Regions from separate parts of the Homo sapiens genome. Here regions 1, 3 and 4 are each linked to region 2. The links come from fine-mapping of genetic effects on gene expression. A gene starts in region 2. Each other region holds a variant in brackets. All regions are shown on one strand. Distances are between the middles of the regions.

Region 1 (8,440 bases), 160 kb after region 2:
ACTCTCCCACCTTAGCCTTCCAAATTGTTGGGATTACAGGTGTGAGCCCTGCCCCTGGCCTGAGTAGGTGGTCTTTAAGTTCCCCACTTCACTGCAAACAGCTGCTCTGCTTGTATCTGCTACACACACTGAGCTTCAGAATAAGATCTCCAGGCTTTTTTTAAGTATCTGCTTATTAAAACACACATACAATTTAAAAGCCACAGGCCTTGAGGGCCTCTGCTCGTTCCTTCTGACCTCCTTGAACCTGTGATTCTAATCGGACCCTGATGAGCTCAATAAGAGCTGGACTTCATTCTACTCAGTTTCAGCAAAATAATGAATTCACAAAGTCTAACCATCGATCAAAAACCAAGAATCTGTGGAAAATCTGTTCTGCCCTCCCACCCCAGAAAAATATAATACCTGCCTGTCCTCAAACACCAGGCCCAGAAAAGATTTCTAAAGGACGTTCACACCCCCAGGGGATATAATAAGTCTCCAGCTGCTTTCTAAGCCAGAGAGAGAGGGCCTCTGGTCACAGCCCTTGGAGACAACTTGCCCAACCCCATCTTTCTCTGGCCAGATCCAAGACCAGGGTCTCGGCTCCTCCTCTATGCTATCTTCTTCAGAGGACTCAAAGGGGAAACTTCTCATCACAGCTGATCCCAACCCACCTTTCTTTCCTTCCAGAAGCACAGTTGGCTCTGCCACCAGGGTAGGAGGCCCACAACAGAGATTTCCTGGCCTCTTGGCAGCAATGTGCCAGCATGAGATGAGGCTGTGCCAGCATAAGATGAGGCTTCCATCTGTTGTCCTCCCAAAAAGGGAGAGGAAGTCCAGCTCCACAGAGAGGCAGTGCCACAGAGCACATGTGGGAGGGGGCAGCCTGCCCACCAACCCCTACAGGGAACCTTCCAGGTAGACAATTTGCCCCTCCTTTTCTAACCATGCCTCCACATCTTCTCAGTCTGGTGAACTCCTACTGATCCTTCAAAACACATCTCCAATGTTACTCCTGTGAAGCCTTTCTGAGCTTCCTTCTCACATACCACTCCCAGCTCATGTGCCACTTCATCCATATCTGTCTTGCGTAGCTCTGAAATCAAATGATAATAATGTTTCCAGGAAGAGCGCACACTGGAAGTGGAAGGACCTCAGTTCAAATGTCAGTTCCCTTATTCAATAGCTATGAGACTTTGGACAGGTCACTTTGCCTCTCTAAGCCCCAGTTTCTTTATCTATAAAGTTGAAAAAATAAAATTTATTCTCTAGGCTGGTTTTTGTTTGTTTTTAACAGTCTTGCTCTTGTCACCCAGGCTGAGTGCAATGGCACAATTTCAGCTCACTTCAACCTCCTCTAGGCTGGTTTTGAAGATTCTGTGATGTACGTGAGAGAACCTAAAATTATGTCCAACACATAGAGGCACCCAAGAGAAGTGGGCTTCATTTCTTCCTTAGAAGAGTTGAGTTTCTCAAGGACAGGAACCAGGTCTTCGTTCATTCATTTATTCACTCGTCATCACTGAACTCTTGTTGGGAACCAAGCCCAGAGCCAGAAGTTGGGTTATGTAGCAGGTCACAAAACAAACTCTGTCCAGGGTCCATACATCTCACAACAGTCTTCCTCACCTGTGTCTCTCTGGAACCTGCTGTGGCTGACACTGATCCCACTCTCCTCAGGTGCTTTGGGCAAGGGCAGGTCTTCCGAGTCCAGGCTGAAATTTGCCCGCCCCTAGGATGGTCAGCAGGACTCTTTTCAGCTCTCGACATCCTCTGAGCCTTGTCTGAGCACTCTGGGAGGAGAGAGATGAAAAGCAGCCATCATCCCCACTCTCAGGGAGCTCCTGATCAGACGGAAGAGACCCCCATCTCATACCTGGAGGGTTTTCAGCCTGATGAAAGAGACAGACTCATCGATCTCAACCTTGAAAACTCCCAATCTGATGGCAGGGTCACATTTTCCTGATTTGGGGAAGTCCCATTTGGAGAGGAAAGAGCAGAGTTCCATTTTCCCTAATACTGCAAACTCTTAGTCTAATGGAGGAGACACATGCCTCCTGATCCTGGCCCAGTTTATCACTGATGGGGGTGAGATTGTTCCCATCACAGGAGGGGACCTCCTCTGATGGGAGAGGCAGTCTGTGCACATAGATAGCTTGAGAGTCAGATAAAACAACATGTATGGGGGAAAAAAGAGATCAATGTAGGGTCCTTTTGAAAAGCTGGCTGTGCAAAGTCTCTATCCATTTGTCTGTGGACTCAGAAGGGATATTCCTGGCTCTACAGATGCACCGTTTGAACTCGCAGAGCTGGACATAAATGACAGAGGCATCCGCCTCACGAGCATCCAGTCAAGCTCCTCACCAGACAACCCACACCAGAACTGGCCAGAGGCCCCGTCACTGGCATCCTGCACCAGCCTTGCCAGGGGAGGCTTTCTCACGATCAGGGACATCTGGGCTGGCCCAGCTCCCAGAGGCCACCGACATGAAAAGCGAGGGGCTCCGCGGAAACACCATCTGCACATCATAAAGCCGCTTGGTGACTCCCAGGGTCTGCCTCCATCTGCGGCTGGGTTGCCCGGGAAAAGAGAGGAAGGTACCAAGCGGCCAGGAGGAGGGGGCCAGGGGGAGAATAAGGATGGCCAAAAGGGGAGAGCCAGGCTGGCAGGCTTCCACCTGGCACCCTATGCACTGGGGAAGTTAACATCACCTGGTTTGTCTCCCTGTCGCTGCCTGGGAACACAGTGGGTTATGCCTATCCCTGGAGGTGACTTGGTGACAGGGGTAGAATACAGTGCTGGTTATGCTTTCAGTGGCCATACCTCAGTTTCCATGTCCGTACATTGGGGGTAATAATAATCTCGTCCATATGGTGGGTTTGCTATGGGAATTAAAAGTAATACAAGTATTGAGCTATACACTTAAGATCTGTACACGTAACATCTGCAATGTGTGATCCACACCTGGTTTAAAGTAAGTGTTCAGTCATCGTTGTCATCATCCCGCCTCCCAGACACTGTCCTGCAGCTCTGGGAGCAGGCATCTGTGATGGGAGGAGCCATCCAGGATATTTCACTGGCCATCCTGCCCAGGGCCCCACCCTCAACACCAAGTCCAAAGCTGATTGGACAAAGGATAGGGCCTGGCCCAAGAAAGCTCATTTATTGGCAGTTGAGCAGAGCCTATCAGATTCTCTGTGGAGAACTTGAGCTGGAGTTGGTTTCTGCCTACGGGTGATCACCTTGGGCCATGTTGAAGCAGAGGAAGGAGGCAGAGAGGAAGAGAAAGAACAGAGATGTAAGAACAGCAGAAATGAGAGAGATACGAGGTTCCTGAGAGGTGGAAAGAGGTGACAGAAGGGAGAAGGCCTTCGGTCATTTCTTTTGGGTTCCCATGTGAGTTCCCAGTAGATAAGGCTGTACCAATGATCATGAACCTATGGTTTGTGCCAAGAAGTACAAACACAAATATGCACATACCACACTCCCCACCCCACATCCCATCATACCAACATACTGACACCCCTTTTTACTTTTTTCCTTACAAGTCCCTACCCACATGCAAACAATTTCCTGAATGGTAAATCCCAGGAGACCAATTTAGTGGAGTGGGGCTCAGAAGCTGAGAGAGAGAAAGCAGTGAATAGTTCCGGAAAATAGCATTTTTGGAGAAAGTGGAGAGAAGAGAAAAGATGGCTGGCTGTAGGAGAAAAAACATAGGTGCACAGAGAGTGCTCAAGGGGAAGTCTAGAAAGTTTCTGAACTGTGGTGCATGATCCTTGCAGCAGAGCATCGTCAAATCATATCACCTGCCATCTCCCGGTTCTGCTCTCCCCCATGTTGGCTCCATCCTTTGCCCCTCCAGCTGGCAAGACAGCTGCTGGCCTCTACAGTGGCGTCAGCCCTCAACCACAGACAATAGCAGGGGCTCCAGTGTCTTGGTTTGGGCTCCCTCAGAAGGAGACCCTTAGTCAACGATTTTAGGACAAATGGTTTCCTTGGGAAGTGATCACAGGAAGTACTGGTAAGGGAATGGGGAAGAGAGCCAGCACGGAGAAGGAAGCCAATACAAGATATGTTACCATGCAGTTATCTCTGTGGGCACCCGGAGCCTAATCCCACTGGGGAACTGTGAGGGCCAGGGTAGAACATGCACCTCGCAGAGAAATGGG[G/T]TATTTATCCACCAGCTCCCATCAGCCATTGGTTGAGGGCTGCCACAAAGCTGGGACTAGGACTCCTCAAATTTTGCACCCTACGCACCTCACTTGCCTCCCCTGGCTACCTTGGCAACTCCTTGGCTCCATTAGCCCCCTGACTTCTAGCCCCTGCAGCACACATGGACAGAGTGGGCCCCAGCAGCCTGAGAGAGTACTCAAGCATAGACCCAAAGACGGGCAATTGGAAGTTCAGCCCGTGTGCATGGAAACGGCAAATACCAAGAGGCTATGCATGGGGCCCAGTCAGGGGCTGCTACATCCTGCAAAAAAAAATCTCATAGTATCTCAAAGGTTCTGATTGGGTCATATGTTCATCCCTGGACCAATCACTGAGGCCAGAGGGATGTGACACGCTAATTGAGTCAGTCTTAAGAGTGGTGGAGGGGGCAGGAAGAATGAGGGGGTAAGTGTGTTCCCTGTGTACCTTATAGAAACGAAGAGCATGAACCATAGCAACTCTCAGAAATAAGACAAAGAGGCATCAGTTGGGTGGCCAGGAAAACAAGACACACAAATGACCACGCCTCAGCCCCAAGTTGCAATTAATCAGAAGGTGAGAGGGTTGGGTTTAGCTTGTCAAAAGCCCTTCCAGCAAAACCCTTTAGCTAGTCACTTTAAACTTTGGTTTAAAGCATTAATTGAGCACTGACCTGTGCCAGACATTATGTCAGGCTCCGAGAGGACACAGATGAAAAGGTCTAATTTCTGTTCTCTGGAAACACAGGCAAGGGTGGCAGTGGAGATGGAAAAGCCAACGACTGCTGTTTCAACGATCATTTCAGCAGATCTGTTAATGAGATGCCACTGATCGTGACACACACAAATTATTTCATGAGCCACCAAGGAAAAAGAAAAGTTGCCAATTAAATATGTCACACCTTGGATAATAAGATTTATCCCGATTTTAGAGATATGAAATGTAAAAAAGATGAGTTTTAGAACTGATGGATTTTGGTCATATTTCATAGCTTATAAAGGATTTTTTTTTTCTTTCTTGAGATGGAGTCTCACTCTGTCGCCCAGGCTGGAGTGCAGTGGCGCGATCTCGACTCACTGCAACCTTTGCCTCCCAGGTTCAAGCAATTCTCTGCCTCAGCCTCCCGAGTAGCTGGGACTACAGGTGCATGCCAACATGCCCAGCTAATTTTTTGTATTTTTAGTAGAGACGGGGTTTCACCATGTTAGCCAGGATGGTCTCGATTTCCTGCCCAGCCTATAAAGGATTTTTTTATAGACACTATCCCATTAGGTACTCACTACAAACCTGCTGGGGGTAATATCACTGCTATTTTCCATTCCGTGAAACTGCACTCAGAGAGGTCAAGTGACTTTCCCAAGGTCGCTAAGCTACTAAACAGCCAAAGTGGAACTCAACCCCAGGTCTGCCTGGTTGCAGAACCAGGAGACCACCAGGTCTCCCTGACACTTTTGTGACTCCTGGTCCATCTTTTTACCAAACATGGACCTCGCCCATCTTTGTTTGCCTCCCACTTCAAAACAAGGATCCCAACCAACTCCACCTCCCTCTGCTCCCACCCACCCATATGCCTGGTCTTGAGATTTCTGTTCCCAGGAGCTTTCTTCCCTTCCAGGCAAAACAGCCTTCCTTGGTGACCACAGGCAGATCGTATGGTCACCCAATCATTCCCAGCTCCCCTCAAGGCTACTGCCATGGTGAGCACTACTCAAACCTGGGTCCCTACCAAGGATTCTATTTTGAAGGAGCCAAGCCTTTGTCCCCCAGAATACCTTAAATTAGACCTATTTGATAATGGTTTGTGTGATAGTTTCCTCATGTATATGTTCCCTCATGAACATAGGGGTTCACACTTGGATTAATGCTCTGAGTTCCTACCTTGAAATTCTTAATAATTTTGAACAAAGGACCCCACGTGTTCATTTTGCACTCAGCCCTACAAATGACGTAGCTGGCCCTGGTGAGAATGGGCCCGCCACACTTAAAAGTATCTGAGCAAGAAGTCGGACTTGTTGCCCCATTCCTGGGACTCCTGAGGTCAGGAACTGTCCTGGTCACCTCTGTATGCTCTGGGAACAGGCAGTGCTCAGTTCCCTAAGCAGAGGGACTCCTCAGTAGGCACTGAATGAAGTGTGTGTGTGTGTGTGTGTGTGTGTGTGTGTGTGTGTGTGTGTCCATGCACACACAAGTCAGCCTATGTTCTTTCAGTTGCAAGGGCTAGAAATCCAGTTCAAAGTACACAAAACTCAGAGGGGGAATTTATTCAACCCTTGGATTGAAAAGTGTAAGAGGTTGATGAACTTCAGGCTCAGCTGGATCCAGAGACTCAATTACTGTCACCAGGCCACTAGCTCTTGGCTCTGCTTTCTCCACCATTAGCTTTATTCTCAGGCAGGGCCTCCTCTCAAGCCCCAAAAGCACCAGACTGACATACCACTGGCTCAGCAAGCTTTTCATGGAAAGGTCCCACCAAAGCCAAGCCTCAGTCCCTGCCCACCTCTGTACCAATCACCAAGCCAGGGGCTATGATATTCTCATTAACCAGATTCCAGTCACAGGCCCACCTCTGAACCAATCATTGGTCCTGGCAGCTGTGATACTCTCACTGGCAGGCCTGGGTCACATGCTCACCCCTGAACCAATCCTCACTGGCCCTCGCGGCTGTGACACTCTCATTGGCAGGCTTAGGTCATGTGGGGAGAGGAGGCTCTCTAAGTGGAAGTCAAGAGGCTGTTGCTAGAGAAAGTGTTTATTTGGTGCCCAATGGGCAGAAATAACTAGTAACATCAAGGCTTCTCTCTGCCTATGTCCCAAGATGGTCACTTGGGTCTGAAAAGCCTGAGAAACCTGCTGACGCAGAAGAGCAGCCTTGGAAACCTAGCAAAAAGGGAAGGCCTGGGACATACCAAGAGTCCAGACAACCAAAAGGCCCACAGGAGGGGTCAGCAGGACCGGGGCAGATCAGACAGGTGCCAGAGGCAGGCGACCACTCTGCACAGTTACCACCAGAGGGCAGCTGGCCAGGAGGCAGGGTAAACAGGAAGAGGTCAAGTAGCCTTGGGGAAACTCTGTACCTTGCCTGAGGCATGGCAGATAATAACACTGACTACTCACCCTTATTGAGCCTGGCCCTGTCCTAAGCATTTTTATGCATCAACTCAATGAATTATCACCAATGAGATTGGTACATTTATAACCCCATTTTACAGATGAGGAAGCCAAGGCTTTCAAGTAACGAGCCCAAAGTGTCATACGGCAGAAAGGGGGCAAGTCACGCGTCTATTCCACCAAACCCTGAGCCTCCTGAGGTTAGGGGCTGTGTCTTGTTTGTATCTGAAGTCCCTGTGGACCCTAACAATCACTGTGCTTAATGGATATCTGGTGAAGTGAAAGCCTGGGGCAGGGGGCGCTGTCACTGTGTTCTCCACCCTCCCCACCCTCCCCATCCCAGGAGGAAATTACCAGGCTCAGTTCAGGCAATACCCCTTCCAGGTGTGCTGACCTTGGAAGATGATTCTTAGACCTTGCCCTTGCTCTGTTGTAATGGACTCTCAGGCACTACAGTACTCACATCAGTAGAAGAGAGAGTTTGAGATTTTGCAAAGGCTTGACAACTCCAAAGTCTCATGGTGTAGGTCACTTATTTTTGTTTGAGGCGGTCTTGCTCTGTTGCCCAGACTGGAGCACAGTGGCACAATCTTGGCTCACTGAGACCCCCACCTCCAGGGTTCAAGCAATTCTTGTGCCTCAGCGTCCCAAGAAGCTGGGATTACAGGCATGTGCCACCATGCCTGGCTAATTTTTGTATTTTTAGTAGAGACAGAGTTTCCCCGTGTTGGCCAGGCTGATCTCCAACTCCCGGCCTCCAGTAATCCACCAACCTAGGCCTCCCAAAGTGCTGGGATTACAGGTGTGGGCCACTGCAGCCGGCCTGTAGGTCACTATTTATGCCTCTCCCAGGAGTAGCTGGCTGTGCAGTTGGGGGGAAGAGGAAGAACATATTTAATGTGAATTCATTCATCATCCTCCACTGGGCTCCCATGGTGGGCCAAATACCATGTTGAGTGCCTTGAGGGGGACAGAGGGAAGCATGACAAAACCTCCTCTCTCCAATCCCCTCCTGGGAGGAGAAATAAGTCACTGCCAGAAGGAAGAACACAGAAGGAAGTCCTGCCTTCCACAAGAGAGGACTTCAACCGTCTAATCATTTGGGCAACAAAAATGTATTAGGTACATGTCAAGTGCCAGTGAACAAAACAGAAT
Region 2 (8,440 bases):
AAGGTATACAAGGGCAAAATGGTTTGCACAGGTGACAAATCACTAGGACAGAGCCTGACCTCATTTATTTCTGTATTTAAGAGGGCAGGCTTAGTTTAATGCCAGCATGGTCACCCTTTCACATCTCAGGACCCTGCAGGCAACTTGGACTCATCTGGGACATTTCCCAAGCCCCTCAGACCTCATCAGGAAGGAAGAGGGCAAACAGGGGCCACTCCTGCTTCTGCCTGCCCCACGACTGGCTCATCTCGAAGCACCCCCTCTCTGGGAGTTTTGTATGTAGCACCCTCCAGGCGGATGCCCTGGCACAGGGCTTCTCTACAAATGGCTTCTCCTAGAAAGTGCTCCAGAAAGGGAGAAACACACAGTCCACACCAGCGGGCTGTCAACACTACAAGGTTATGGGGAGGATTAAGATAATGTAAGCAAAGTGCTTGACACATATAGGCACTTAATAAATACTAGTTATCATTGCAATAACAATAATACTAGTTGGATGAGCCACTGTGTCTCCAGCCACTTAGTTGACAGGCCACGTAAAGGACTAGAGGCAGAGACTAGCCCCAAAACAGGCCTGGGGTTGGTGGGAGGACCTCTGCCAGCCCTTGGAAACCAGCAGACTTTGGAGCCCATGCCCTCCTACATCCTGATGATATCATGGAAGAACCTACCAGCTACCCCTTCGGCACCAGAGGGAATCAGGGAAATGAACTAGCCTGAGGGTTGCCCATTGCTGTCCTGTTCAATATCTTAGTGCTTCCCAAACTTGGGGCATTCCATTCCCACATTCACAATTTTGACCACTTGTACTTAATATTTTTCTCTGAATGGACTTCACGTTAGACTCTTTTTTAACTTAGCTTCATCCTAAGCAATAAAATCTGCAAAATCATGGGTTTGATGTCCTAGTTATTTTTTTTTCTGGTAAAAAAAAAAAGATAACTATTAAGATTTAAAATGTTCCCCCAGATTCCACCTGAAATCACCTGGAGGATGCCTGGAGTGCTGTTCCACACCCTGGGCTCCCCCTGAAGTTCTGACTCCTTATCCCTACCTCTGCAGACACACTGGCTGGGCCATCTGGGGCCAAGGTTGGTGAAAACCCAGGCGTCTGGGTCCCCAGCAGCAAGAACAACTCCCAAGGAGACAGAGGCCGGCCCCCTGCATAACAACTTTGATGGCTGCGGCCCACCCTCCAACCACCTGACACATGTCATGCCAACGGCTCTGAGCCTCACATCTTCAAAAGTACTTTGAACAAACATTAATGACCTCTCAGCATTTCTCTGAGAGAGGGGGTGAGGGAGAGAGGGGGACAGGCACCATCCCATGCTGTCCTCAGCTGGGGGAAGAAACTAGGCAACAGAATTCCGTGACTTCACCAAAGCCACAGACTTAAGCTGGGGCCCCCTCCCCACCCTCCCTCACTTCCCCCAATGGCAACTTTAGTGGCCTGCATTCCTCTCGCTGGGAACACTACTATTTAATTAAAAACGACAGACTTTTGTTTTCCTCTCCCTCTTTCCTCCTCCCTCCCATCCTCCCAGACTGGATGCCAAGGAGACCCACCAAAAACATGCGGGTAACATTTGTTATGGCTTTGAAGATAAAAGTCAATTGAAGTAAGCCCTCGCTGTATTTCAAGTTTTCCCTCTAGCATGGAGCAAGCTGCCTGGCAGTTTAGAAAAAAAAGAAAAGAAAAAGAAAAAGGAGGGACTGCAAATAAATGTCATTCTGCAGGAATACTTTGTAAAAATAAACAGGCTGAAAAAACCCAAAACTTGATTAATGGAAATCCACTCAGTTGGCCTCTGTCTGGAGCTGTAAATGCATTTGTTCATACGGCTAAATTAGACCGTTTTCGTTGGCCTTTAAATAAATAAGTAGATCAAAAACTAGAAAGGGCAGGGGAAGAAGGAGAGGTTTGTAGTTCTCTTTTTAAAGGGCCCCAACTGCAGTGCCCCCCGCCCACCAAGATTTGACCTTTACTAGGGGACAGCAGCTCCAAGTCCGACCCGGCCAACAGAAGACAGAGAAGCCCCCAGCTAAGCAGTGGCGGTGGAGGAGGACAGGGGAGCTTCTCCTAGGCCCAGAGGTTATTTCATCCACACACAGGAACTGACTTTATCCACAGGTCCACCTCCCGACACCAGCACTGCAAGCGAGCTGCCAGGTCCCACCACCCAAATACAAACACATCTGAAGTCTCCACTGGCCTCTCCCCAGCCCATGGATAAGACCAAAGAACTAACCAGACCTGAGACTCAGTCTATTCCCCCTCTAAGTTAAAAAAAAAAAAAAAAATTAAATGTCACATCAAAAAGTTGATTCATCCTTTGATCCTAGGCTTGCGCGAGTTCCACGCAGACTGCCTGAAAGCCCCGTGCAGAGTTCCGGAGCTCACAGGACATCTGTGAACGCCAAGTCCCAGGCCAGGAGCTGGGGCTGGACTCACTCATTCCCATCACACTTAGTGCTCCTCCAGGAACTCCAGCCTCAGAGACACACGGGGTGAAGGCTCAGGGCTCTGCCCAGGCTACAGTGGAATGAGGCCCTCTATCTCATATGCCAAGTAAGGGGTCTTCCAGGTCTCAGTCCCCCTAGATCTGCTACCCAGAGGGCCGCCTGCTCTACTGGGGTTCCTGTACAGGTGGTACTGATGAATGCCACAGACAATCAGAACATATTCAGATCCTGGGGCCAGCACAGCTCTGCCTTCCACCCAGACACCCCTAATACCCCCTTCTCTCTAGCCCCTACTCCACCTCCACCTTTGAATGCTGGTGGCAGAAACAAGGTAGAAGTCAGAGCAGGCCCCCAAATCCCGCCGGTACAGACACGATTCCCCATCAACTGGACCTTCACCACCTCCCCACCTAGGACCTTTCCCCCAGGCAGCCCTCTGCCTCCAGCTGGGCACTTCGAGGTTCTCCAAGGCATGCGGGCAGAGGGTCGCGTTGGTGGGGCAGGGGGCAGCTGAGAAGAGATTTTCAGACCCAGAAGCTGTGCAGGAAAGTGCTCAAAGTTGGGGTGCATGGGTTTGGGGACCCATCTCTGAGGCTGAAAGGAGGCCAGGAGGTGGGGCAGGGGTGGGGAATCATACCCGGGTGCTTCGGCCTATGGTGCCCGCCAACCGCAGCTGTCGGGGTCCCGAGACACCGCCCGGGCAGCGCTGTCTCCCGATCCACTCCTCGATGCCCTTCCGAGCCCAGGCAGCGCTCACGGCGAAGCTGTCACCTGGGACGGGGACGACATGAAGCCCCTGAGTCTGGCTCCAGGTGCCAAAAGTTACCCCCGCGGAGGGAAGAAGGAGGCGCGGTGGGAGGCGAAGGACCACGGCACGGGGGCCAGGAGGGGGTTCGCGGGCTGGGGCAGGAGCCAAGAGAGGGACGCGGGTAAGTAAAGGGGGGTTCAGCGAAGCCCTAGGAGCGAGGAGCCAGAAGGGGGCAAGAGGGGTGAGCAGTACCCCAGGAGGACGGGTTTAGGATCAGACCAGGGAGCACTGGCAGCCAGGACTGCGGAGGAGAGGGCTGGGGGTCAGGAGAGGGGCCGCAGTAGGTGCAGGAGCCAGGATATCGGAAGAAGGGCCGGGGGGCAGGAAGAGGGGGCAGGGTCTTGCGGGGAGGCGCTTGGGGGTCTGAAGAGAGGGTGCCGTGAGAGCCGAGGGCAGGGACGCGGGAGGGGGAGGGGTTGAGGGTCAGCGGTGGGAGCGCAGGACCGCGGGGAGCGGGTAGGAGGGACAGAGGAGGGGGCGCGAAGGCTGCTCAGGGAGCGGGCTTGGGGGGCCGGTGGCCGGAACTGGGGCTTCGGGGTGGCCCTGGTCATAAGACCTGGCGGGCTGGGCCGTTCTGCCGCGGCCGCGGTGTCCCCCGCGTCCATCCCCGAGGTCTGCGCCCCGCGCGCCCCTACCTTCCGGGCTCTCCCTGCGCTTGCACACGGCGGCTGCAGGCACATCGCGAGGCGGCGGCGGCGGCGGCAGCCGCGGCGGCGGGAGAAGGAAAGAAAGGAAGGGAGAGAGTTAGCGACCGCGGCGGCGACGGCGGCGGGGCCCGGGGCGAGCGCGCGGGCGGGGGCACTGACCCGGCTTGGAGTGAAGTTTCCCCATGCTGGGGCTGCGGCGGCCGGGAGCGTCCCTAAGCCATGCGCCCGGCCCGCGGGCCTGGCGCCTCCCTTGGCTCTCCTCCTCCCGAAGCAGCCCCCGAGCCGAGCGGAGCCCGAGGCGGCGCCGGGACGCGCTCCTGCCGCCGTCGCCGCGGCCCGACTGACGCCCGGGAGCGCCGAGCCCCCAGCCCGCCGCCGCGGCCCGCGCCTCCCCGCGCGCCCATTGGCCGGTGCGGCGCATCAAAGGCAAGGCTGGTTGCGGCGGGGGCGGGGCCGGAGGCGGGGCAGGGCGGGGACGAGGGCGGGGCGCTGACGGGAGGGGCGGGACACAGTCCGCGCTCCCTGCCGCGGTCTGGGGCCGGGGGCCGAGCTCCAGGGCTGGCGACCCGGCGGGGCGGCTTGTCCAGGAGGCGTATTGGGACAGAACAGCCCGGCCATCGCTAACTGTACTGTCACTTCCCTCCGCTCCACGTTCTCTCTAAACGGGCAGGGCGGGACTCGGCGGCTCCAATTTACAGGTGGGGAAACTGAGGTCGGGAGCGGAGACCTTAGCTGCTCAGGTGCAAGCTTCGGCAGCGCTGCCTTTTCCCAGTCTTCCCACGACCTACCTTCTGCAGAAAGTGTTCATTACCCGCCCCGTGACCCGCCCCCCACCACCGCACTCCTCTAGTTTCTTATTTGGGGAGTCCAGGAGGAGCCCCCAGCGCACCCCGGGCCAGTGTGAGCCCAGCCCTCTCCAGGCAGCGACAAATGTCCAAAGCGCCCCGTTATCAGCCAGTCTCTGGGATCTCCTCGTCCGGGGGCCCGTGGGTGCCCGCCCGGGTCGGGGCGCGCTGCCAAACTGCGCGGCCCGGAAGGGGGTAACCGCTGAGTCTTTGATCTTCCTTGGTTTCCGCTCCCCGCTGCAGTTCGCCAGACCCAAGGGTTTGTTTGTTTTGTCTGGGGAGGTCTCTGCGGGGAGGTCGCGCGGGGGGAGGGGGATGGTGGCGGTCGACATCAAGGGATTCCACCCCACCTTTGTGGCTCTCAGAACGCCTGCCCCCTTCTGGGGACACTGTGGGTCCGTGTTACGCTCGTCCTGGCACCAGGCAGCTCTGGCGTGGGAAAAGAAAACCCGCAGCTCAGAGTGAGACCAGCCCCGACCTTTGGAGTGAATTACCTGTGCTCAGTTTTGTGATCTGTATAATGGAGGCTCCATTCTGCCCTTTTTGCCGACTCTCTAGAGCAGCACTGCCCAATAGAAATATAATGTGGGCCACATTTGTAATTTTAAATTTTCTTGTCGCCACATCTTTTAGAAGTAAAAAGAAATAGATGAAATATTAATAATATATTTCGCTTAACTCAATACAGTCAGCCCTCCTTATTCACAGGTTCCACATCTGTGGCATCAACCATCTGTGGACTGAAAATATGCAAAAAGAATAATACAGCAAAAATAAAGAATAAAAAACTTTTTAATATAGTATAACAACTATTTACATAACATTTACATTGTATTAGGAATTACAAGGAATCTAGAGATGATTTAAAGTATTCAGAAGGATGTGTGTAGGTTATATGCAAATACTACAGGACATTTTATATAGCGGACTTGACATCTGGGGATTTGGGTATCCTCTAGGATCCTGGAACCAGTCCCCAAAGACACCAAGGGAACACCATATATCCAAAATAGTATAATTTCAAGATATAATGAGATATTTTACATTCTTTGTATTGCGCTAAGTCTTTAAAATTCAGTGTGTATTTTACACTTAAAACACATCTCAAAGACTAGCCATATTGCAAGTGACCATTTGCACTTGGCTAGTGGCTACTGCATTGGGCAGCATCGCTCTGGAAGATCTACATGTCTCAAAAGGACATTAGGAATTCACAGCCCCCCAGAGTCATAAATCTCTTCATCCAAGTGTCTTACTTTCATGTTCCAAGCTTCCTTTTTTAACACCCTTTTTGGTGGAAACGAAGGCTAATGTTATAAGCAGGTACACTAAAATCCTGTTGGCCAGGTGGTTTCATTTGAAGAGTGCTGAAACCACAAAAATATATTACTGTTGTCATTTTTATGTTACAATTCTTCATTCAGTACTTCTGATGTGCCAGTCCTCATCCTCCATCATGTGTAGCCCTCGCAACCACTCTCTGATGCAGACTCATACTTGTTCTAGAAAGGAGGGAACCTATTCAACTCAGAGAGGTGAACTCACTTGCCCAAGGTCACAAAGTTCATCCATGACCCAATTAGGAACTGAACTCCAATCTGTTGATTTCATTGCCCAGGCTTGTTTTCACTACATCAGGTTGTCCCAACACAGTGCAAAACTAATGTTCCACCACTAGAAAGAGAGTCTTCCATCTGGAAACAAATATGAAGGGCCAGCCATGTGACAACCATTGTTTTAGTCACCTAAGATACATCGGTGAACAAAATAGACAACTGCCACTCTCATCGAACTCCCACTCACCTAGGGGGAAGATAGGCAAGAAACAATAAATGATGAATTAGTAAACAGTGTAGTAAGTTACACCAGGGGTAACAGGCCATTTTTCTTTCTTTCCATCCCATAAGGACCTGACAGCAAACAATTTTGCCCTCTAGGGGACACTTGGTAATGCCTGGAGGTATCTAGTGGGTAGAGGCCAGGGTTGCTGCTACACATACCACAATGCATAAGGCAGCCCCCCCACCCTACCAGAACAAATGATCCAGCATCAAATGTGGGTAATGCTGAAGTAAGAACCCCTGAGCTGTAGGAACATGAAAAAGTGGGGCAGAACGGCGGGGGTCAGGTGTAGGAGGGAGGCAGGGGTTTGAGCATCTGAGTCGGAGTGGGCACCCTCTTTCAGACCCCTCAAAAGGCAATGGAATTCGTCTGGAATTCCTGTTTGCCTTTCTCACCCCTCCCTGCTGGTACCAGGGTGCCTCTAAATCAAAGCAAAACTTGGAGCATCCTTTCTCACAGTGCTTAGAAAGTTGGTTACTTTCTTAAACCGGTCCTGGCTTTCTTCTTCCATGAGAAAAAAGTATCCCCTCTTCCCCTTGGGAATTTCTTTTTACAGTTCAAAAAGAGATAAAAGCAAGAACTAAAACTGCAGTTAGCAGTTTGAGTCTTGCGGGGAGTAAATCCCAAATGTCCAGCCCAGACACAAAGCCCCCCTCCACCTTCACCCTGGTGCCTCCCAGCCCAGCAGGCGCCTGGGACTTCACTGCTATTGGAATCATGATACCCTTACCCGGATCTGGGGTGAGAACCCAAGAGATGGGCCTTGTGGCAAAATGTTAGTCTGTCCAGGTCTCTGAGAAGGGGGTCTCCAGGGGCCACCAGCATGCTGTCTACCTGGGGTGGCCATTCGGCCTCCGAGGGCTTCCCACCCCATAACTCACTGTCTTTTCGTGTGTTTTAATAATTTATCTGGCCCATTTCTTGGGCTGTATACTTGCAGTGACACATCTTTTTCTTTGAAGATTTCCTATCCTTTGGGGGAGGAGAATGGGAAAGGAAGGCAAGGAAGAGATAAGAGAGAGAGATTATAACAGAAACGGGTTTCATGGGGCTTGAGATTTAACAAGGCTGGTTTAGGTGAAATCTGTCAGACATAGAGCTGGGAGATTTAAAAAAAAAAAAAATCCTACATCACCCAAGTTAGCTGCTCCAAAGCTTGTCCCCGAAGTTAAGCCATCTGATCTGGCCCCTTCAAATGCCATTTCCTAAAGGAAGCCCTCCTTGACCTTCCAACCTGAAGGGCTCTTCTCTGCTCTGATTAGCCAAGGTTTCCCTGCCCCCTCCCATCTCCACTTATTTTATGCATGAGGCTAAGTTTCACTCCTGGAGCCAGGGCTCCTTGAGGCCAGGGTTCTTGCCTTACTTGCATCTCTGAATGCAATGCCGAACACAGCACTGCCTATAGCAGGTGCCATCACACCTGCTGTGGAAGGAGACAAACTCTCTCTGCCCAGCCTCAGCCAGGAGCATGTTGTGGTCAATAAGGAGGGAGTACTGCCAATAATACGATCTTGGATATATGAAGGAGAAAATCAGTTCCCAAGTCTCCACTGGTTCCTCCTGGATCCCTGGAGTTGCTTTATTTTATAGTTCCCTGGTGAGTTTTGGCATTGCTAAAGGGCCTGGAAGCCTAGTTTGGGTGAGGAGGGGAAAGTTAGACTACTCTGCCTGAGAAAATATCAGGCATTTTGGAGGGAAGGGAAAACAAAGATCTCAAAGGAAACAGCATGAGAAGAGAGTGATAATGGGGCCTAAGAAGGCACAGCCAGCAAGGTGGGGACTGGCCAATTCACTTTTGGGACAGTGAGCTCTAACATGCGATTGGCAGTGCT
Region 3 (8,440 bases), 48 kb before region 2:
TGAGTACTTAAATGCTTCTCTTTAAATTGGCTCTCTCTCTCTTTTTAACCTAGTCTTGCCATAAAGCAATAAGATCAATAAAATCACAGGTGTTGGGGGCCTTGGTTTGGTTTGGTTTGGTTCTTAGATGGGGGTCTCACTCTGTCCCCCAGGATGGAGTGCAGTCGCATGATCACAGCTCACTGCAGCCTCCAACTCCTGGGCTCAAGTGACTCTCCTGAGTATCTGCGACTCCCACCGACACAGGCCACCGTACCCAGCTAATTTTTTAAAACTTTTTGTAGAGACACAGTCTCGCTATGTTGTCCAGGTTAGGTGTTTTTTGTTGTTTGTTTGTTTGTTTGTTTTGTTTTGTTTTTTTAAGGACAATTCATATTGAACAAATTCAGAATCATTAAAATATAAGACACCCACCACTTGCCCCTCCAACCCCTCAATAGGACATCAACCATTGAACCATGCTTTCGGAAAGACAGGATTTAAAGAACCTACCCCCTGGCCCCCACAGTGGTCAGGCTGGTTCCAATAAGTAGGAAGACGGTGGGTGGGGGAGAGACACCAGACAAGGTGGGCACCAGGAGATGCCACCAACCTTCCCACCTGGCCACCCTCCTTGAAGACTCATGGCTTCAGTGTGATTTCTGAGCATGGAGAAAAAATGACTAATGGGGGAAAAAAAACCCAAAACACCAACACCAACAACAGAAAAGAGTAAATCTTGACATCACCCAGAATGCTCCCTGATCTCAAACTGCTGGCATTTCAGAGCCCTTAAGAGATGAACCAATGTAGGGCCAATTGCCCAGAGCCAGGCAGGGCACGGGGTGGGGAGACTTTGCTGTTTGTCTGACCACAATTTTCCGACTAGACAGTGTTCAAAGGCATTTCTACAGTGGAAACTGGGATCTGATGGGCATGTTGGGGCCTGGGGGTAACTGAGGTCATGAATATAAAGGACTCAGTGATGATGATAACCAGTCTTAGTCAGTGTGCGACATCTGCCAAGTGTTCCATGAAGCACGTTAGGGGCATCACCGACCAAGTGCTCCCAGCAGCCCTAGAAGCTGGGCTCTGCGATGACCCCCACTTTGGCCATGAGGAAACTGAGGCTTAGAGAGGTTAAGTGACTCACTCGAGTTGTCAGTCAGGTCTGGGTTTGAGCCTTGGTTCTTCTGCTTTTATACTGTGTGACTTTGTACAAATGAGTCTACCTGACTATGCCTCAGTTTCCCCAGCTGAAAGTGGAAATGACAGCCCCCACCTGGCAGGGCAGTTGTGAGAGGAATGGAGAGTATGTGTACAGTGCTTGGTGAGTGGCCTGGCTCAAATAGCGTGTCCCAAGTCACAGCTGTCACCTCCTTCTCCCTCCGGGCCCTGGTCTTTCATTCTCTTCCCTCACATGCTCTCTTCTGCCCTGGTTTTTGTCAGGGATGCCACAGCGGATCAAAGCCCAGCCCAGCACTGCCTCATCACCCCAGAAGGCCTCAGGCGACCCCACTTCTGGCCGGCTGCAGAGAGCAGAGAGAGTGCACTCAGCGCTTGTCGGAGTCTCTGCCCTCCCACCCACTGCTGACCACACACACACGGCCTTCCCACCCACCACTGACCTCTCTAAGCCACTGCCCACCACACCACTGACCCCACCACACCACTGATCCTGCCCCACCACTGCCCACCACACCACTGACCCCACCACACCACTGATCCTGCCCCACCACTGCCCGCCACACCACTGAACATTGCACCACTGACTCTACCATGCCACTGCACATCGCACCACTGATCCTGCCACACCACTGCCCACCACACCACTGGCCCCACCATGCCACCACCTGCCACACTGCTGACTAGCCCAGCCACTGGCCCGCCACGCCACACAGCCGAGTGCTGATAAGAGGAGAGGCCCGAGGGCCTGTGGCGTGCCTCTGATCACCAAGCAGCTGGGGCGGCATCTGCCAGCAGTTCCTGGCCCTGGGACAGGCCCCCGGTCTGCTGCCAGGGTCTAGCACGTGTGACCTGCCGACAGGGTGGCCCTGAGCCAGGCTGCTTATGACAGGCAGCACTGTCATCTGGCCCCAAGGAAGGGTGCCCCATAGCCATAGGCCACCTCACTGTGGGGAAAGGATGTGTGCTCCTGCCCAGGGAAGGGGCTTGGGGACCCAAGAAGCCTGGAATTTCTTGCTCAGCCTCAGGAATGAAGGGCTTGAGCTTCTTGCTTTTCTGAACCTAAACGAAACAGATGAAGTAAGAGCCTCTTGATTCCTATACCCTGAGGCCTCATTTTACGGACAGGACAAGAGTGTCCATGAGCACAGGTGTGCGCGCACACACACACACACACACACACACACACACACAGAGTCCACCCATGCGGCCCTGCAGTGCCCTGGAGAAACCATCTTGCAGAAGCCATGCTCCTACCCACTCTGATCCCATCAGCCCTGGGCCTCCCACTCTCATCTCCTGGCCCCTTCTGTCCCCTTGTCCCCAAAATAGCTCTAAGAAACTTGTCACCATCCCTCTCACAGGCCAGACCGCCCACTTGGAGCCTCCCAGCCCTGGACCATCCTGTCCCCTTCACCCGGAGCGCCCTCCTCCCTCTACTGCCAGTGAAGTCTTTTGCCTCCTCCGGAGCCACTGTGGATTTCGACTTCCCACCATCCCCAACCACCAGATGAGGACATAATCAAGAGGGTCACACTGGCGGCTTCCAGAGGACTCGGTTCATTCTGAAACTCAGCAGTTCGCATGCTGCCAGGGCTGTGATCGAAAGCCTCAGTGGCCACATCTATAAAATGAGGGCACCAATCCCACCCGCCTGCCACGCAGCAGTGCACGATGATCACACCAAAGGTGGGTGTGGAAAAGCCGAGAAGGTGAGAGGGGCCATTTGGGAATGAGGGCCCAGGGTCCACAGTGCTGTCAGATAGGAAGCTGCTGAGGAGCAGCCTAGTCCGCTCCTGTGCTGTTGATAAACAAAAAGGTGCGTTTTCCAGAATGTTTCTGGAAGGCCACGCTCCACTTCAGAAATGGGAACTGGGGCGCTGTCTCCTTCAGCTGTCTGATTTTCTGGGTGATTTGAATTTTATATTTATATTCTCTCTTTTTAAACCAAGAACATTCAACCCTTTTATACTGAAAAAAATAATAATAACTTTTTCCAAAGCGGTTTTTCCATTAAAACAAATGATGTGGCTCTCCCTCCTGTTTGATGTCACCAAGTTGCTCAACAGGCACCTCAAACTTCATGTGTCCAAACCGGACGCCTGGCGGCCCCCAAACCTGTCCTCCCCAGTGCCTTCCCTGTGTACACAGGGCAGCTCCCTGCTTCCTTCACTCTGGCCAGACACCCCAGAGGCTTCCGCACATCCTGTTGGCTCTCCCTCAAAACACACCCTGAAACCAATCATTGCCACCTCCTCCACTTCTGCCACGCATTCCAGGCCACAGTCCTCTTGAATAATGACAACCATTTTCTATTCTCTGCCCTCGTCGCCACCCCAACCCCTACCCAATTCCCCAAAGTCCCACCAAAGCCCATCAAAGCCCCACCCAATTTGTCTGCCCTATCACCTCCCTCACCCCTTCTGTTCCTCCCCATTCACCCGCTCGCCCACAGCCACACAGGCGTCCTTGCTGTTTCTCCAACAGGTTCAGCTCATTCCCCATTCAGGGTCTTCACAC[A/G]CGCTGTTCCCTCTACCCGGAAGACTCTTCCTCTGGATAACCCCTCCCTCCTGCCCCTCCTTCAGGTTTGGGTTCATTATCACCTTGTCACCTAGGTGAGGTCTTCCCAAATCTCTTTATTTAAAACTGCAGCCCCCTCTCCCACAATCCCTTATTTATCTCTGGGGCATTCCCACCATCTGACACATTATGTATCAACGCCTGACGGCGGAGGCACTCGACCAGCGTGTGTTGAACCACCAAATGCAGCTCTGTATTTACTGACTCAGAAAAACACGCCCTGCATTTTCTTGAAAGAAAAAAGTAGTTGCCAAACAGCAGAGAAAATGTGATTACATTTCCTAACATTATCTGCACGTGTTTCCACGCGCTGTAGTAGGAGGCACACGTCTGCAGAGACGGGCACCAAAATGCTCCCAGAAATGGTGCCCGGTGCTGGATTCCAGGTCACCCAATGGTCTTCCATGAACACACATGATTACTTCTACAATCAGAAATTACAGCAAAGTGTTTTGAAGGAAAAAAAAAATGCTAAAACATACAAAAATGGGCACCCAAGTTGGTTCTAGAAAGACTCACACTCAGAAGTCTGCTAAAAGGGTCTTGGCCCTAGCAGTGGCAAGACCTACAGCATTCTGGTGAAATGGGTGGCCTCCTGATTCCAGCTGGGAGGGAAGGTGGAGACTCCAGACTTTGGTCCACCCAGACCCCATTGCTCCCTTCCACAGCCACACAGTGCACCCAGGCCACAAAGAGGCCACAGCCACACCCATGCCTGCTTCTCACTGCTCTCACTGTACATGCATAGGAAGCCAGGGGCTGTGTAATGCAGACAGCGCTTTGATTCCAGAAATGGCATGAGACCAGCTGAGCATGCAAGCCAGGCTGTCATCGGGGGCTCAGGGGGAGCAGGGTGGCACTCTCTCCTGCCCATCCCAACCAGCACACACCAAATTTTGCTGTTGCCATTCTCAGGCAACCAAAGATCTCAAAGCAAAAAGTATGGGGATCTAGAAGGCCACTGCCTGCCCCTGCAGGTCCAGTCAACAGCCCACATCAGGGGCCCGTGTCACCACAGGGTGGTCACCTGGGAAGCCAGTGAGGTCTGGGAGAGTCCGTATGGTCAGCATGGAAGGTTTGAGGCCACTCTTGGGCCTGGGGATAAGAAGGTCTTCATGGCAGTGACTCCACCCATCACACCTGTACCTCACCCATCACACTTGTACCTCACCCAACAACCCCAGGAGGTCCACGTGTGAGCTATTGCTGTTTTTACAGATGGGGAGACTTAGAGTCATAGGGGAGGCAAGAGAGTGGTAAGGCTGGGAGAAACGGAGCACTCCCGAGAGGAAGGCCAGGGCTCTCAGGACATGCCCCTGGGTGTTCCTGGATCTGGAAGAGAGGCCTCTGCTGTCTGAGCCCCACATTTCCACCAGGACCACCAGCATCAGGCCAGGCCAGAGCCTTTGTTCAGAGGTTCTGACCTGCAAGAAGGACCCAGCCCCTCTGAGAATGTCCCCCTAGAAAAATGCCATGCAAAGAAAATTGCACATTGAATTTCAGGGGGTTCATGAACCTCCCCACTACAAGTCCTTTTGTGAATTTTAGTTTAGGAACCTCTGAGAGTCCAGATGGGGAAACTAAGGGCTCAAAAAGGGACAGGACTTACCCAGGGTCACAAAGCCAAAGAGGAGCAGAGCCAGGATCCGAATATAGAGGACCCACAGCTGGTAGCAAAGAACCAGCGAGCGATGAGTTCCCTCGGGGAGCAGAGGCACAGGACAAGAGCCCCCACACACCCTGACTGCCAAGGGCTGGAGCACCCAGACCAACAAGCCCACCTTTGGACGGTTTCTCCACAAGCACTGTCTCAGGCAACCAAACATTTCAAAGGAAAACGTAGTGGGTCCAGGCATGGGGGCCCAGGACGTTTGGGGAATGCTGCGTGGACTTCTCAAGCCTTTCCAGACCACCTGTAGCAGGCCTCCCACGAGGTGCTCACAGATCAGGGGTCTCCTTACTTCTTTAGACCCTTTGATAGCAGTCCACCTCCCCAGGGCACCGTGTGCACGTGCAGATCCCCCCGGGTCTGTGTGCCCCCCTCCCTTCCCTATGTGCTCCCCACCAGCAGCTCACACCTGGGGGCCCTCTTCAGAGGCCTGCCCTAGGGCTATGTCTGCAGACTCAGAGAACTGCCGTGTCCCCACCCCAGGTGGCCCTGAGCCTGGTGCAGGAGAATGAAAGCCCATACCTCCTGTCACGACAAACTCAGAAGCATAATTTATACCCCAGAGCTCCCCCAGAGGGTCAGACTGAAGCCAAGACTTTGCCTGAAATGGCACCTGTGCTTGGCTTCTTCCTCTTGTCTGTCCTGCTTCCTCCACTGCCTCACTGGCCTGCCCTGCCCTGGGACAGTGTCCTGAGTGAATCACTAGCACGTGACCCTCACCTCAGGCTCTGTTTCTGCAGTCCCTGACCTCACAGGGCTCTCCCCTGAACTACGCGGGTAGTTGGAGGAATCCTGACCCACTTGGTGAATTCACAGGGAGTAGGCAGGCCAATGAATTGCAAGCTGGTTGGTCTCAGACAAAGCAGGTGGAACATCAGTCCAGCCCAGAAAGGCAATGGTCACACTGTGGCCAATCCAGCTACGTGAGAGGCCAGGGACCCTGATGCCAGGGCTCAGGCCTGAGAGGCAGAAAAATGGAAATGGACATTTTCTTCCCACCCCACCCCACCCCATGCCAGCCCCACTTCAGGAAACCCCCTCCCCATCTTTCAGAGCCTAATTCAAGTGCAAGAAGCTTGTTCTAAGCACCTTGTGCCCCAGGAACCTCTCTCATTCAGCCAGCGCGTTTCAGGCTGGCTTCACAGACTGTAAGTTTGGGAGGAAGCCGAGGCTGTAGGAAGCTCTTTGTCCCTCATCTGGCTCCTGCAGTGGGCATCTGAAATTCAGAAGCCCCTGGTCTCCAGCGCCCCCTTCCTCCTTCTTCTGGGAACACTTTGATTTTCCCTGGCGGCTTTCTAGACCTCACAAATAAAAACATAGGACATTCAGTTAAGTTTGAATATCAGATAACAGATCACTGTGTAGCATAAGTATGTCCCATGTAGTATTTGGGATAGACTTAAAACACAAAAAAATGAAGTGCTATTTATCTGAAATTCAAATTTAACTGTGTGTCCTATATTTTATCTGGAAACCCTGCCCCTCCATTCCTCTCACCCACATGGTGTGGGCAGGCTGATTTCTCCCCGTAACCACCAGGGAGGGCACATGACCCAGGCCTGCCCAGTAAGAGCTTCGCACCACGCCAGCCATGGGGACTGGTCAGGGCCGGGCACACAACCCAAGCTATGCCAAGGAGAGGCAACCCCAGGACATCTTCTTTCTCTCTGTTGACTTTGGTGAGATGTGAGCTGAGAGCCTGACCCTACTGAGAGCACTTTACCACCTCACAGAGAAATTCTAGCTATGAAAAAAGCTAATACCCAGGAAAACAGAGCCACGAGGGGATGCAAAAGGGGTCCTGACATCATTTGAGCCCCTGGATCAAATGGTGCCTGAAGCTAGTACCTCCCCTACATTTTTCAATGACGTGGACCACAAAATCTCCCCTTTTGGCTTAAGCCAGGGTGAGCTTATTCTCCTCATAAGCCAGTGAGTGAGTCCTGCTCACTCGCTCCTCCTCACCCTTGCCACCTGGGCATGAGGCTGGGCAGAGTCTATGCTCAGAGAACATGTTTAATTTCACTAAGGAGGATGGTGTGGGGCGATGGGAGAGCCTGAGCTCTCCAGTCAAGCAGGCACAGTTCCCGGCCCCACTCGGTTCCATCCTCGTTCCAAGTCCTTGCACAACAAACTCTCCATGAGCCTTGGTTTCCCTATTTGTGAGATAAACATAGGTACTTATACCTGGACTGCCCATATAATGCTAGTGCCTTAACCAGGACACTTTAGAGAGACAAAGGGAGTGCTGTTCATACCCAGGTTGGGAGAGACTGGAACTGCCCTGGGTAAAGGGACCAGGGATGCCGTCCCTACAACTGACCCTGCCTGTCTCCACCCGCTTCTGCACTAGCCCTCCCCCACAGCCCATGCCTTCAATTCCGCCCCCTCCCCCTCCCCATCACCACCCTCTGTGCAGGATGCTCCCCTACTCGCTGCTTCTCGCTGCCTCCTAATTCATTCTTCCAGTCTCAGAGAAGCCATCCCTGGAGCCCCGGGCTCTGTGCGGGCCCCACTCTGCATCCTCCTTGCAGCCTTTGGCGCTCTGTGAGACAACTACTTGTGGCTTGCAGGCTCCCCAGCCGGCTAAACTCGTTGAGGACAGGGTCCGTACATTTCTCCCTCATTACTGAAGGCCCTTACAGAGCTGGCATGGTGCCTGGAAAACGACACATAAAATAGCAGACAAAAAAGGACACCGCTAACCCTCTCTTCCTCCTCTCTGCAGGCTCTGTATTTTCTCTGTGCATCGATAAAACCATCCTGGCTGCGATGCCAGGCAGGGACAAGTGAAACTATGAATCATGGAGTGGGGAGGGCATGGGGCAGGGCTAGGACCCACCCCCAGTGGGCCCAGGACATGCTGGCAATGTTCTCAGAGCCAGTGACTTGGGGACAGTGGCCTTAGAAGGCCCCGCCCAGTCCAGCAGCCCCCAGGCGGCGGCAGCAGCAACGCGCTGGCCTTGGGACAGCTTTCATTGATCCAAGGCCAATGTGGACTGGACCTGAGCCGGCTGCCTATTCCAG
Region 4 (5,000 bases), 210 kb after region 2:
CACTGTGCATCCGCTGGAGAAAATAACTCGCAAGATAAGCCATATCTTTTGAGGTTTTTCTCACCACTCTGAGTGGGAGAAACCTATGTAAGAGACTACTTTAGGGAACGAATCAAGGGTGATCCTGGCACCATACCATACCATGGCAGGCAGGCAGAAGAGAGTTTTCATTTTAGCTCTCTTCCACTAACTTGTGGACTTTGGGCAAGACATTAACTACCCTGGGACTCAGTGTTCTCATCCCTAAAGAAGGGTTTAGTCTGTGGTCTCCAAGATGATTTCTAGCATTACTGTTCTGATTCTAGATAAGAGGTAGAGTAGAGAGGATACTATGAAAAAGAACCACAAGATAGGACAGGGATTTTGCAAAGAAGAAATGAGTGGGTATAAGACACTGGTAGAAGGAGAAAGGAATCAGAGTCCAGAGCTTGAGCTCACATTCAGGGGAGTTAAAGGATGATAAAAATGAGTCGTGCATCTGCATGTGGTTTTTCGATTTTTATGGTGATTCATTTTTCTGTATTACAGTTTTACATTTAAAGAAATGCCTTGGTGTGCAGATGTCTGAGTGTCTGTATGCTTGGCTGAGAGATTCTTGGATTCACTTAACTAGAGAAAGAAAAACATGTTTGGATTGTTGATTATTCTTGCGCTCCTAATATTTAGACAACTTTGGTTCCCACCCTTTCCTAAAGACTTGGGAAACTAATGGAAGCCAGTTACCCATCTTTGACAACATTCGCAGAGGAAAGAGGAATATGAAATGTTTACCCATTCTTTGCAGGAAGACTCTCAGAATCTAGAACCATGCCATATTCCAGGTTTAAAGACATGGAAATGCTTCTTGTTAATGTATTTGAAGTAAAAATGCATTTGTCAAATGCAGCCTTTAGTCACTCCAAAATATGTACATTGAATTGGGTGGTGGGAGCCTAATTTTTAATGACCTTTGATTTACCACTTCCTTAAGTAATGTAGTTAATACAACAAGCAAAAGATTCCATTATCTCTTGAATTTTACTGGCGTGTGGAATGGTTGAAAGCACAGAAAATAAAATTTTCTTCACTTTCCCTTCCCTCTCTCCCTCTTTCTTTCTCTCTGTTGTCTTCCTTTTTTTCAGATCTTTTGCTGTTGAGGAGCCCCACCCATCCTGTGTTATTAGCTTCCTATTGACTGTTCTCTCCACCCTACAGGGGAGGGGTCGTCACAACAGTGATTTTTAAACGTTTAAATTTAGACCTTTTGAGTTAACTCTTCTAATAGTTTGTGCTCCAAGAGAGCCCAGCACACCCTTCCGTGAATGGTGTCTTTTCAAAGATAACTGTTTTTGAATGTTCATTGAAAAAATTGTAGAGTAGTCACTCATCATTTTTTCAGTTACACTCAAATAACAACTATTAGTAGACGTGTTATTTTTATAAAGAATGAACAGATGAGGCCAGGAACAGTGGCTCATGCCTGTAATCCCAACACTTTGGGAGGCTGAGGTGGGCGGATCATCTGAGGTCAGGAGTTTGAGACCAGCATGACCAACATGGAAAAACTCCGTCTCTACTAAAAATACAAAATTAGTTGGGCGTGGTGGTGCATGCCTGTAATTCCAGCTACTCAGGAGGCTGAGGCAGGAGAATCGCTTGAACCTGGGAGGTGGAGGTTGTGGTGAGCCAAGATCACGCCACTGCACTCCAGCCTGGGCAACAAGAGGGAAACTCCGTCTCAAAAAAAAAAAAAAAAAAAAAGAAGAATGAACAGATGAAGAGTAACTTTTTATCTCCTAAATAAATACTTGAGTAAAATGCTGCATTGTAGTACAAACAAAGTAGTACAAACAATACTATTTGTAGCATAGTGGCTTTGAAATCAGACCAATCAAGGTTCAAGTCCTAGCTCTACCCTTTGGAAGCTGTGTGACTTTAGCCCAGGTAACCTTTGTCAGCCTTTTTCCTGTCCTGTAAAGTGGGGATAATAGTAGTACTTACCTCATGGAGTTGTGTCTGGCACATGGGTAAGCACTAAGTAAATGTTAGCTATATTATTAGCAAAGAACCAGCCCTGTTAGCCATTTAATATTGTAAAATTGAAGATCAATAATGTGCTGACTTGGAGGCATTTTAATTACCAAAAAAAGAAAAAGACATTGCTTTCAAAGGAAAATTAAACTTCACTCTTTCCTGGGACTTGTTTCAAGGTTTAGAAACTTTCTCTAATTGAATTTATTTTGTGCATGTCGTGTTTTTTAAAACCCCAAAGCATTCTTAATGTAAGTTCTGCTTTATAAAATTCTAGAGTGGAAATAAAATTATTACTGAGAACTTACAGAAATAATTAAACTCACTAATATTTTTAATGTAGCAAAATAAAAC[G/A]TGTTTTTAAAAATCAAATAAGATTGCTTTTTGTTGTTGTTTGTGTTTTTTGTTTTTTGTTTTGTTTTTTTGAGACGGAGTCTCACTCTGTCACCCAGGCTGGAGTGCAGTGGCGCAATCTCGGCTCACTGCAACCTCTGCCTCCCGGGTTCAAGCGATTCTAATGGGTTAGCTTTTTAAGTGATACTATTGATTTTGTCAAGGATTCAGAGAAACTTTCAAACACTAATGTAAATTAGTATGTAAATTGGTATACCTTTTCTGGAAAGCAGTAATTATCAAAAGTCTCAAAAATATTCATTCCCTTTGACTTTGTTTCCTTTCTAAGAGTTTATCCTAAAGAGATACTGGTTCCTAGAGAGATTTATTTATAATGATGTTGATGGTACTTTTATTTATAATAGTGGAAACATGGAAATCTAAATGTTCAATCATAGGCCATTAATTAAATCATGGTGTAGACGTGGGATTAAATAGTTATTAAAATATTTTAAATATCTATTGATATGGAGAGGAAATGCTTATAATTTATTAACTGAAAAAATGCTTTTTACTAAATATTCAGTATAATTCCAATTTGCTGGGTTATGTAATGGTTGGAAAAGTACTGGAATAATAAACTTGTTAACACTGTTCTTCTCTGGATGAGACATTAGGAGGATTTTTATTTTCTCCTCTACCCATATTTTTATTTGTCCACAATAAAATAGATCGCTTTAATGGTTTTAAGATTACTTTAAAAGTCCAGTAAAAAACAGCAAGAACTGTGTTGGTGAGGATGTCACCATCTGCACTACTAATAGAGCATGGTGTGATGAGGAAAGGCCCAACATGAGTGACAGCAAGCCTAGTCTTAGTTGCTGGTTTAGTGACCTTAGGTGAGTCATTTGTTGTTCCTGGGCTGCGTTGTTCTTGTTTGAATGGCCTCTGGTTCTTTCTAGTTCTTAGTTTATGTTACTCCACAGAAGTCTTCCCTGCTGTTGCTGTGCAGCCCTAAGGAGGTTGCACTCTATTTTACCCAGTGATAACTTTCAGAGTACAGGCAAGGTAGTCAGTAGAAACAAATATGCCTTCTTAAAATTTACGGAGAAACCTCAAGCCCTTAACTACAATGAAAATTTCACAGCACATCATTGCAGCGAAAAATTAAGCACATGTTTCACAGAATAGAAACAAGACTTCTTTGGTTAGCGAAACCATTCTGCACTCTGAGGAAGGAACTGTGCCACCAACTGTCTTCTCCTCAAGGCTTGTTGTTTTCACACAGAGTGAAATGCCAGCGTCATCCGTGAGCACACTGGGCTACCAGAACAGAGAGGGACTTCACACGCTCACATGCCCTAGGCTTTGATACACCTAACAGTTCTTAACTGTCAAAAGATAAGCCTGTCTGTTAAACACAAAATGTTAACACACCATTAAACTAAATTTTAGTCTTCCAATTCAGTACTTCAAAGAATACTTAGTCTTAATTCATACTTTCTCCTCTGTTAAATTTCTGATAGGGCAATAAAGTTGTAAAGCTTTCTATGAAGTTGGAAATTAAATTTTAAGAATTGAAGGTGTAGGCATTATCATGGTTTCCAAATACAATACTCTCTTGGTATATGATTACATTTAATTGTTTTTCTTCCCTGGTTAATGACAGGATAAGTATAAACTCCTGTGGGGAAAAAAATGCATTACTTTAAAAGTTAATGACAAACATATAATAAGAATATTTTCGAATATGTTTAGGAAAGAATTCAGAGCCTGAAGCAGAGCATAGACTTCATGGCTGACTTGCAGAAAACTCGAAAGCAGAAAGATGGAACAGACACCTCACAGAGTGGGGAGGACGGAGGCTGCTGGCAGAGAGAGAGAGAGGACTCTGGAGATGCCGAAGCACACGCCTTCAAGAGTCCCAGCAAAGAAAATAAAAAGTAAAAGATCTTTGGGATGTTAAGGTCAAACTGTCTTCTTCAAGCTAGTAAGGGGGAAAAATACTTATTCGGGGCCTGACTTGGGAAGACCAAGTGCTAGTGTGTCGGTGGTGGTGGTGTTTTGGCATGAAAGTCCATTTTGATGGTGTGATACCCCTCTTCTCATATGAAGCACTATATGGGATTGTCCAAACACAGTTCAGAAAGCAGTTCTAATGTGTATTCTTATTGAAGTAGTTTTAAAACCTATAAAGTGTCTTTTGGGACTGATATGGTCAGTGAGTTTATTTAAATAGAACTGTTTGTTTAAGAAAAAATGCATAGTCATTACCTCCTTCCATAAAGGAGCAAGGAGTTCAGTGGGAGCACAGGCACTGCTGCGTCTTAAGCAGATGGGCTGTCACTGCAGCGTGCCCATGTTTTCCACCCAATGTCAGCTGGTGGGAGCAACGCTGAACCACTGTTCCACCTAGGCAGCCACCTGTGCAGCTGACGGCAGCCGCATCTGCCCGTTCACACTACTGGGAGCCAGCCCTGACCGCCCAGCACCTCACTGCCAACTTTGGGGAGGGTTGTAGTTAGCAGTTTGGGATTTTTGCTGTCATAATGCAAAGAAAGTAAACTAGTGACAAGTTTTTCTTTGTTCTAAGATTTACACACTTAAGTGCTTGTTTTAAATTTTAAAAATCAAACTTTAAAAGAACAATGGTATAT

Evidence for each region.
Region 1: its variant is fine-mapped to the expression of NKD1 in cerebellar hemisphere (GTEx, PIP above 0.99). The same link has a PIP of 0.9 or more in cerebellum.
Region 3: its variant is fine-mapped to the expression of NKD1 in tibial nerve (GTEx, PIP 0.95).
Region 4: its variant is fine-mapped to the expression of NKD1 in T cells (TOPMed, PIP 0.92).

The regions. Positions count from the first base shown.
Region 1 is chr16:50,381,009-50,389,448 of GRCh38, reverse strand. No RefSeq gene overlaps it. Among named protein-coding and RNA genes, the nearest start is that of LINC02178, 9.9 kb to the left of the region's middle. The variant G/T (reference allele first, on the strand shown) is at 4,156.
Region 2 is chr16:50,544,219-50,552,658 of GRCh38, reverse strand. It overlaps NKD1 (NKD inhibitor of Wnt signaling pathway 1), which reads right to left and starts at 4,263. Exons shown (of 10, transcript NM_033119.5): 1 at 4,081-4,263; 2 at 3,910-3,942; 3 at 3,104-3,237. The coding sequence starts at 4,105. RefSeq lists silencers at 3,941-4,130, 4,171-4,620.
Region 3 is chr16:50,592,148-50,600,587 of GRCh38, reverse strand. All of the region lies in intron 3 of NKD1 (NKD inhibitor of Wnt signaling pathway 1), which reads right to left. Among named protein-coding and RNA genes, the nearest start is that of NKD1-AS1, 17 kb to the left of the region's middle. RefSeq lists an enhancer at 2,108-2,608. The variant A/G (reference allele first, on the strand shown) is at 3,685.
Region 4 is chr16:50,333,997-50,338,996 of GRCh38, reverse strand. It overlaps BRD7 (bromodomain containing 7), which reads left to right. Exons shown (of 17, transcript NM_013263.5): 7 at 4,102-4,286. Among named protein-coding and RNA genes, the nearest start is that of BRD7, 32 kb to the left of the region's middle. RefSeq lists an enhancer at 3,312-3,391. The variant G/A (reference allele first, on the strand shown) is at 2,365.